Regions from separate parts of the Homo sapiens genome. Here region 1 is linked to region 2. Evidence: fine-mapped expression QTL. Tissue or cell type: whole blood. Region 2 holds a variant in brackets; the other region holds the start of a gene. All regions are shown on one strand. Distances are between the middles of the regions.

Evidence for each region. PIP is the estimated chance that this variant, and not a neighbour inherited with it, causes the effect.
Region 1: PCYOX1 starts here. The variant in region 2 is fine-mapped to the expression of PCYOX1 in whole blood (INTERVAL, PIP above 0.99).

Annotation. Positions count from the first base shown.
Region 1 is chr2:70,256,232-70,261,231 of GRCh38, reverse strand. PCYOX1 (prenylcysteine oxidase 1) reads right to left here and starts at 3,095. Exons shown (of 6, transcript NM_016297.4): 1 at 2,956-3,095; 2 at 1,666-1,872; 3 at 1-20. The coding sequence starts at 3,067. RefSeq lists silencers at 2,730-2,839, 3,110-3,239.
Region 2 is chr2:70,127,017-70,132,277 of GRCh38, reverse strand. No RefSeq gene overlaps it. Among named protein-coding and RNA genes, the nearest start is that of LINC01816, 4.3 kb to the right of the region's middle. The variant G/C (reference allele first, on the strand shown) is at 2,364.

The sequences.
Region 1 (5,000 bases), 130 kb before region 2:
GGCCTGAACAGCAGAGAGACCTGCAAAAACATAAAGCACAGCTAAGTCAGTGGTGTCTATGCTGATCAAATGAAAGAACGTAATCTGAGTGAATTTGGGGCTTCCCTCAGTTCTCAGGAGACACATAAAGGAGCTCTATCTTTGGAACAGTGTGAAACACTATACTTTCACTACACTGTCCAAAAGCAGATTTGCTAGGCGATGGGTCAGATGATCATGTAAATATTAATATATCAAAAGTAGATATATTTTTACCTGGCTATTTTTAGACTAAAAGTCTAAAAAAACTGGATAGTCAAAGGAAAAAAGCCAGAGTACCAACTGAATTCAATTTAAAAACAAAGATGTCAGACATGCATCTTCGTGGCATAATTTGTTCTGGGTATACCTTCGCCCTCGTGGAGGAAACGGAAGCAGAGGCAGCATCTACAGAGGATGTGGAAGGCAGCTGAGGCACTTCCATTCCTGTGAGAATCCTATTTTGCAAAACTGGATATTTCAGATAACTGGAAGGAGGCCAAAGTTACAAAATACTCCCTGCCGAAAGGGCCTCCAGAGGCCTGTCAGACTTTCCCCATGACCTATCCAGCTCCTCTGCTGTCAGGGCAGCAGTTGCACATCCCAAGTTCTAGGCACGTGTCTGCATCCACAGCTGTGTGACGGAGTTTGTTTTGTTGGTGGTGGTTTGTTTTGATAGGGTCTCACTTTGTTGCCCAGGCTGGAGTGCAGTGGCATGCAAGGCTCACTGCAGCTTCTATCTCCCAGGCTCAAGGGATCCTCCTGCCTCTGCCTCCCAAGAAGCTGGGACTACAGGTTTGTGCCATCACACCAGGCTAACTTTTTTATTTTTAGTAAAGACAGGATCTCACTATGTTGCCCAGACTGGTTTCTAACTCCTGGGCTCAAGTGATCCTCTGCCTCGGCCTCCCAAAGTGCTGGGATTACAGGCATGAGCCACTGACCCTGGCCATGGCCATATGTGAGTGACTTTGAGCCAGACAATTCAAGTCTCTGGGTCTCATTTACTCAGCTGCAAAATGATCACAATGAGATGACTATCTCCAAACCTTCTCTGATTCTTTAACACAAACCCAGAATTTTAAGAACAGACAACAGAGGCCGGGCACGGTGGCTCACCCCTGTAATCCCAGCACTTTGGAAGGCCAAGGCAGGCGGATCACCTGAGGTCAGGAGTTCAAGACCAGCTGGCCAACATGGTGAAACCCCGTCACTACTGAAAATACAAAAATTAGCTGGGCGTGGTGGCAGGCACCTGTAATCCCAGCTACTCAGGAGGCTAAGGCAGGAGAATCGCTTGAACCCGGGAGGCAGAGGTTGCAGTGAGCCAAGATCGCACCATTGCACTCCAGCCTGAGCGACAAGAGCGAAACTCCTCAAAAGAAAAAAAAAGACAATGGCAGCCATTCCCACCCCCACCCCATGGCTGTAATTCCAGATAACTGAAGATACAGACAACTAGTGTCCCATTACAGCAGAACTGCTCCTAACTCAGGCAGTACCAACTAACAAGAAAGTGAGGAAAACAGTTTTACCAACGTCTCTGTAAGGCAATTAACAAGGCAGAAATTTCAGTTCTCCATCTGATAAAAATATCCGGGGATGTCACACAGTAATCTGGTGAGCTCCAAGACCAAAATTACATACCCAGGTCTTTGACAAAACGTTTCATGTGCAGATTTAAAGGATGGATGACAGAACCTCCTGCCTCGTATTCTTGCCCCTGCACCATCATGGTAGCCAGGCGGCCCCCGACCTCTTCTCTTTCAAACAGGTCTATCTTCACATCTTTCCCAAATTTCTGCCGCAGGTAATAGGCTGCTGAAGTGCCACCAATTCCGGCTCCAATAATCGCTATGAGGGAAAAAAACAGAAGATTATATTTTCCCCTTTTACCAGCTCTGTGAGTTGTTTTGTTTTTGAAAGACCATCAATAGCAGAGGTTGTTACTCAAAGCTATTACCAACAATTTGGTGGGGGAAGAGTGACACCTGCAGCGAAGGTCTAACTCCCTGAATCTGGACAGACACTGTTCCCAGACAAAAGCAGTAGATTAATTAACATATTGACATTAACTCGATTTTTTTTCCAGATGCCCAAAGATTCTCACAGGTCTTTATGGAGGAACCAAGGGGCCTGCACACCCTTCCAGATGCCCAACTCACGGGCACATTAGAGGTGGACCTTTCCAGCACGCATTTTTAATAAAGTGACGGCCATTTATGCCTAGCTTTGTTGTGTCTAGATTCAATGTAGATAGGTTAATGATACCGAAGAACACAACTTTAAAGGGGGGCGGGAGGGAGACAGGAAGCAAAGAGCCAAGGCTCCTGACACTGGAGCTCTTGACAGTGGAAAGAGAACAGATTCTTTCTGCAGCTGTGTTAGTCCTAGGCGGAGAAACTGTGCAAGCCAAGGGCCTCTGAGAGCAGGCCGACCTCAGCAAAGCGGAGCTGGGGGAAGGCGGTTCAGCCTCCCAAGGGAAGCAGGCAGGGTCAACTTGTTTGCACTCCTCCCTGTGCTGTGCCTGCGTGAGCCTGTTAATCTGGCCGGGCGCCCCAGGTCAAGCCAGAACACTGGAGTCTTCACGGTCAGTGTTCAACGGGAAGATAGAGAAACCTAGGCCTCCCCGGAGCCCCACACCTAAGAGACAGGGGCTACAGGTACGCTAGGCGCCTGCCTGCCCGCCCGCCCCTGTCCCCGTCCACGCCCATTCCTCAAGTGGGCACCTCTCCACGCCTGGGAATGCACAGTCCTATTCCGACCAGAGCTGAAAGCCGCCCTGAAGTGTGAATGGGGGAAAGCGCGACCTGCGCAGCTGGCTCGGCCTGCACCGCTGGACTGCGTCGCGGCTGTGGGATCTGGGCGCACTGCGCAGCGGCCGCCCGGCGCGGGGCGCGCTCCAGCACCTTCCCGCGCCGCCCCCTTCTCGCCTACCGATTTTATCTGGCGGAGCACGCAGCTCGGCGCCCTCGGGGCATCCGCAGCTGCACAGCAACAGCCACAACCCCAGCAGCGAGGAGACGAGCTCCGCGACGACGCGCCCCATGGCCTCCACAAGCTCTGCAGCTGGCCTCAAGAGCCCCGCAGTCCTCCCACCGCTGCGCGGCTGCGCGCTCCGCCCAGCCCCGCCCCCAGGCCGCCCAGCCCCTGCGAGCCCCGCCCAGGTCCTGCGAGCCCCGCCCCGACCTCGCCCCGCCGGTCCTCTCAACCCTGCAGGAGCTCCCCACTCTGGGCCACTCAGTGCCCTAAGCACATCCTGCCGCCTCGAAGCCCACCCTCCTTCAGAAGACATCGAAGGCAGAAGCTGGCCGGGCGCGGTGGCTCAAGCCTGTAATCCCAGCACTTTGGGAGGCCGAGGTGGGTGGATCATGAGGTCAGGAGATCGAGACCATCCTGGCTAACACGGTGAAACCCCGTCTCTACTAAAAATACAAAAATTTAGCTCGGCATAGTGGCGGGCGCCTGTAGTCCCAGCTACTCGGGAGGCTGAGGCAGGAGAATGGCGTGAACCCGGGAGGCGGAGCTTGCAGTGAGCCGAGATTGCGCCACTGCACTCCAGCCTGGGAGACAGAGCCAGACTCCGTCTCAAAAAAAAAAAAAAAAAAAAAAAGGCAGAAGCTGAGGCTCGCCTCAGCTCTCCTCCTCCTTCCCTATCTATTTGGGTGAAGCACCTTAGTTCTTCACTAGTACCCTCTTCTGTTCCCTCCGTCGCTCCTCTCAAAGAATGCGCACAGCTAATCGCTGCCAGAAACAGACCAAAGGGACAACAGTACTTACTGAGTGATCACCCTGTTGCGAGAACTGTAAGGTTCTCCGTGAATGGGTAAATGGTGCTAACTGTAAAGAAAAATGAGGGAGACTGAGGATGGGGTGGCCCAAGGTGAAGGGGGTGTAATAGTAGTAACAGACATGAATAAAAGTAGTGTACCTGTAAGGACACCAGAATGTGCCACCCCAAAATACGCCTCTTTAGCCTAAGGATTATTTCAAGCCGAAGACAATTGAGAAGATGTAGATACGATGTAGATACGTGGGTGGAAAGTTCTCCGCCTTCCCCATTTGCCTAAAAGCAGGACATAAATTTTATTTTTTTAACAATTTTTAAATATATTGCATTTTATTACATAAAAGTAAAATTAGTAAAATAATATAATTTGATATACTTTATAATTTATAATTTCTCTCAGTATAATGTAGAAAAGTATTACTCTGAACACTTACTTTTTTTTTTTTTTTTTGAGACGGAGTCTCGCTCTGTTGCCCAGTCTGGAGTGCAGTGGTGCGATCTCAGCTCACTGCAAACTCTACGTCCCGGGTTCAAGCAATTCTTCTGCCTCAGCCTGTAGCTGGGACTACAGGCACCCGCCACCGTGCCTGGCTAATTTTGTGTATTTTTAGTAGAGACGAGGTTTCAGTGTGTCAGCCAGGATGGTCTCGATCTCCTGACCTCATGATCCACCCGCCTCGGCCTCACAAAGTGCTGGGATTACAGGTGTGAGCCACCGCGCCTGGCCATGAACACCTACCTTAAACATTACTTAATTTAGGCTAACTACAATGAGCCTCGCTACTTATATTTTTATCATGCATCTTACATTTTAATGTCCTTACTCTTTTATAGAAAAGGTCATAAAGAATGCCCAACTAATAAAGAATCTCTAATATCTCTGATACAGCAACAACTGATCACATACTTTCACATGTGAATACAATAGAAATAAAGTAACAGCATAAAGTAATTTGAAAGCTGTATTATATTATTATTCACTTTTCAAAAAATTGTTTTCAAGGAAACAAATATACTTTCAATGTAATTACAAAGCTTCAAAAAAACTCCTTTTAAAGTTATATACAAATAATTTAACAACTTTAATTGTGAATTCATTTTTATACTCAACACTCCTATTTAGTGTAATGTCTGAAGTAAAGCAGGACATAAATTTTAAAAGGCAAAGGTATCCCTCTTCCCACACTGCCTG
Region 2 (5,261 bases):
AAGGCACATGGTACAGTGGAAGGAAGGGACAGCAGTTTTGTTTAATTTCATGTTGCTTAAAAAAATGTTTATATGCATTTGCTTTTTTGAACAGATAATTTATTTATATGTTTAAAACTAAAAAAAATGAAAAGATGTACATCTCTTCTGTCCCTGTCCCCCAAATGCCCACTTTCCCCCACCCTAAATAGATAACCCTGTTATAAGGTTTTTGTTTATCCTTCTAACGTTGTTTTTCTACACATACAAGCTAAAACAAATCTATACCCTTCCTTACTCCATTTTAACATATTTAGTGCCAGTCTGTACACGTTCTACACGTTTGTTGGGTTTTTCCCCCGCTTTAACACCCTATCTTGGTGACATTTCCTTATCGGTATATGAGAGTATCCTCATTTTTATCTATCTTTGCGGCTGTAGAGTATTACATTGTATGGACTACTATAATTTAACTGGTTCCCATCAAGGGGTGTTTAGATTGTTTCCAGTCTTTTGGCATTACAAATAAAAGCATGGACTTTAGAGACATGTGCTTTCAAACCCCAGTCCCGATGCCTACTAGGTGATTGACAATGGGTCTTAATTGCCTCCTCTGTAAAGAGGAATTTTTTGTTTGTTTGTTTGTTTGAGACAGAGTTTTGCTCTTGTTGCCCAGGATGGAGTTCAGTGGCGCGATCTCAGCTCACTGCAACCCCCGCCTCCTGGGTTCAAGCAATTCTCCAGCCTCAGTCTCCCAAGTGGCTGGGATTACAGGCATGTGCCACCATGCCCGGCTAATTTTGTATTTTTACTAGAGACGGGGTTTCGCCATGTTGGTCAGGCTGGTCTCGAACTGCTGACCTCAGATGATCCACCCGCCTCGGCCTCCCAAAGTGTTGGGATTACAGGCATGAGCCACTGCACCCGGCCAGGAATTATTTTATGTTTATTTCACCTGTCCCTTAACATTGCTGTGAAAGACTCATATAATATACAAAGAACTTGAGAAATCCTAGGTGCTCAGTGGAAACAATATACCTTGCAATGAAGCATATTCAAATTTATTCTTGAAAAAAAGAATACTGATCAGGACCCCTGGCTCATGCCTGTAATCCCCACGCTTTGGGAGGCCAAGGTCTCAAGAAGGACTGCTTGAGACCAGGAATTCAAGACCAGACTGAGCAACAGAACAAGACCCTACCTCTTCAAAAGTAAAAATAAAAAAATTAGCCAGACATGGTGGCACATGCCTATAATCCCAGCTACTTGGGAGGCTGAAGCAGGAGGATCTCTTGAGCCCACTACTGCACTCCAGCCTGGGTGAAAGAGCAAGACCCTGACTCTAAAAAAAAAATGTGTTTGATTATTTTTTGAGACAGTCTTGCTCTGTCACCCAGGCTGGAGTGCAGTGATGCAATCTCGGCTCTCTGCAACCTCCGCCCTCCAGGTTCAAGTGATTCTCCTGCCTCAGCCTCCCGAGTAGCTGGGATTACAAGTGTGCAACACCACGACTGGCTAATTTTTGTATTTTTAGTAGAGACAGGGTTTTGCCAGGAGTTGGAGGTTGCAGTGAGCCGAGATCACGCCACTGCACTCCAGCCTGGGCAACAGAGCAAGACTCCTTCTCAAAAAAAAAAAAAAAATGTGGCCACTGAAAAATTGTTAACATGATTCACTTTATATTGCTATTGACAGCATCTTCTATGCACTTTCCTACATAATCATCCTTCGCTTGGGTGAAGACAGTCCGTGTGATTGCCTGAGTCTTCTCTTCTCCAGTTATATCACACTGCTTGCGCCTTTTATTTTTTATTTTTTTTCAGACGGAGTCTCGCTCTGTTGCCAGGCTGGAGTGCAGTGGCGCAGTCTCGGCTCACTGCAACCTCCGCCTCCCAGGTTCAAGCAATTCTTCTGCCTCAGTCTCCCGAGTAGCTGGTACTACAGGCACGCACCACTATGCCCAGCTGATTTTTGTATTTTTAGTAGAGACGGGGTTTCACCATGTTAGCCAGGATGGTCTCAATCTCTTGACCTTGTGATCCGCCCGCCTCGGCCTCCCAAAGTGCTGGGATTACAGGCGTGAGCCACCACGCCCAGCCTGCTTGCTCCTTTCAAATCTGTTGATATACTGAAACCTCCTGAACTGAGATCATCCCGAGACCTCACTGTCTTGAACATGCTCAGTTCCCTCCACTCTTCCTTACAGATCATTTCTCATAGAACCAAATTTTGTCATCCTTGTTGTCCACATCTCAATATTCTCCAGGTTATGGCTATCTCTATCCCTCCTGCCCTCCAAAATGAGACCACACGCTTGTAATCCCAACACTTTGGGAAGCCAAGGCAGGCAGACTGCTTGAGCCCAGAAGTTGGACACCAGCCTG[G/C]GCAATGAAGTGAGACCCCTTCTCTATCAAAAAAAAAGAAAAAGAAAGAAAACAAAATAAATTTTTAAAAAAGGGGAGACAGAATCCTCCAGAGAACCGTTGCAGATGTCCCAGAAAGGTGATGCTCCCAAGTGCACAGGGACAGAAAGTAGAATGGTGGTTGCCAGGAGCTGGGTAGAGGGGAATGAGGGAGGAGTTGTTTCATGGGTACAGAGTTTCAGTTTAGGATGATGGAAGAGTTCTAGAGATGGATGATGGTGGTGAGTGCACAACCACGTGACTATATTTAGTGCCACTAAACTACACTTAAAAAATTGGTTAAAATGGGGCCGGGCGCGGTGGCTCACGCCTGTAATCCCAGCACTTTGGGAGGCCGAGGCGGGCGGATCATGAGGTCAGGAGATCGAGACCATCTTGGCTAACACGGTGAAACCATGTCTCTACTAAAAATACAAAAAAAATTAGCTGGGTATGGTGGCGGGCGCCTGTAGTCCCAGCTACTTGGGAGGCAGAGGCAGGAGAATGGCGTGAACCCGGGAGGTGGAGCTTGCAGTGAGACGAGATTGTGCCACTGCACTCCAGCCTGGGCCACACAGCGAGACTCCGTCTCAAAAAAAAAAAAAAAAAAAAAAATTGGTTAAAATAGGGTGGGTGTGGTGGCTCAAGCCTGTAATCCCAGCACTTTGGGAGGCCGAGGTGGGTGGATCACCTAAGGTCAGGAGTTCGAGACCAGCCTGGCCAACATGGTGAAACCCCGTCTCTACTAAAAAAAAAATACAAAATTATCTGGGCATGGTGGTGGGCAGCTGTCATCCCAGCTACATGGGAGGCTGAGGCAGGATAATCACTTTAACCTGGGAGGCGGAGGTTGCAGTGAGCCGAGATTGCGCCATTGCACTGGGCAACAAGAGTGAAAACTCCATCTTGAATAAAAAAAAAAAGCATTAGTCTCTTCACCCCACTCCCCATCAAGTTTTCCCAGACTGGGCCGGGCGCCATGGCTCACGCCTGTAATCTCAACAATTTGGGAGGCCGAGGCGGGTGGATCACGAGGTCAGGAGATCGAGACCATCCTGGCTAACATGGTGAAACCCCGTCTCTACTAAAAATACAAAAAATTAGCCAGGCATGGTGGCGGGCACCTGTAGTCCCAGCTACTCGGGAGGCCGAGGCAGGAGAATGGTGTGAACCCGGGAGGTGGAGCTTGCAGTGAGCGGAGATCGCACCACTGCACTCTAGCCTGGGTGACAGTGTGAGACTCCGTGTCAAAAAAAAAAAAAGCTTTCCCAAACTGGAAAATGCATGCTGTCTTGCGGCATGGTCCTGGGCATCTGTGAGGGCCTGCACTGACCTCTGAAGTATCTCCATGTCCAAGGGAGTACAACAATAAATAGTAAATAAAAACATCATGACAGGTTGAGAGAGAGACTGTAGAAAAAATGAAAGGGCTTTTTTCATCCTTTTATGAGAAAGGGGCCCATATTTTCATTTTCCCCTGGGCCCCAAAAATTATGTAGCCAATCCTGCTGGCAGATAAAACATTCCTGAAGGAGGTAGCCAGAAGCCTAATAATATTCTGGGGGTATTGTGGCTTAAGTATGTCAGCCCTGTCCAAATGTAGAACAATGCTGGGGGCTATTTCAAGCCACGTGAAATGTCAACACCTGTGGTAAAGGACTATTAGCAAAGCTAATGTGCAGAGTCTGCACACATGACAAGAAAAAAGTCAACTTGCTAGGAGGGGTTTGTTGGCTGTTTAGCTTTATCTGGACAAGGGAAAAAGTGGGTAGAAAAGGCTCTCTGGCTAGTTCCTCCTTGAAGCAAGAACTCAGCTTGTTTCTCTGGATAGTCTGTGGTCAGATATAACAATGGAAACTTCAGGAAATCTTTATTTAAAAAGAGAAGGTATCTCCCCACACCTTCTTCAATATTAGGTGCCACCAAATTCTGGCTGTTGATCTGTTACTCAACAACAACAAAAAATGTCTTTTGTTTATTTTTATGTCTGATTCCAAGGAGAGTTGAACTTATTTAAAGTGGGTCTTTAAAAAAAATCACTTCAGATGTTTGTTTCTTTTGAATTTTCCATTGGTATTCATTTTCTTATTTATTTGCAAGCACTTCCTACATAGCAAGAATAACAACATTTTGTTTTCATGTGTGTTGCAAATAGGTTTTCCCAGTTTGCCTATTGTTTTTTAACCTTGCCCGTTTGGAATAGCTTCAAGCCACATCATCTGATGGGAATGGAGGTCACCCTAACAGTGATACTGCAATGTCACTAATTCAATAACCACCAAATTTACTGCTAATAATCGCCAACATTTACTGAACATGCACCATATGCTTCATGTGCCATTAATCCACAAAATTACCCTATAAAGTAGGTACTATTTTTAGTTTCATTTTGTAGATGAAGAAACAGAAATAGGAGAGGCTAAGTAATGTGCCTAGTTACCCAGCCTAGTAAGGGATGGAATGTGGGGCTTGAACCCAGCCCTGACTCCTAAGTCCAGTTTCCAACCCTGCACTGTCCAATACAGTGACCGCAGGTAGCTATAGAGCACTTCACATGTAGCCAGCCTGATTTCAGAGACCAAGTGTAAAAAAAAGAATGTCAGATATCTCATTATTAAAAAATTTTTTTTTCAACAGGGTCTTGCTTTGTCACCCAGGCTGGAGTGCACTAGTGTGAACACAGCTCACTGCAGCCTCAACTTCCTGGGCTCAAACGATCCTCCCACCTCAGCCTTCTGAGTAGCTGGAATCACAGGTGTGTGCCACCATGCCCAGCCTCTCATTATTAATTTAAAAATTGGCCAGGTGTGATGGCTTACGCCTGTAATCTCAGCACTTTGGGAGGCTGAGGCAGGCAGATCACCTGAGGTCAAGAGTTTT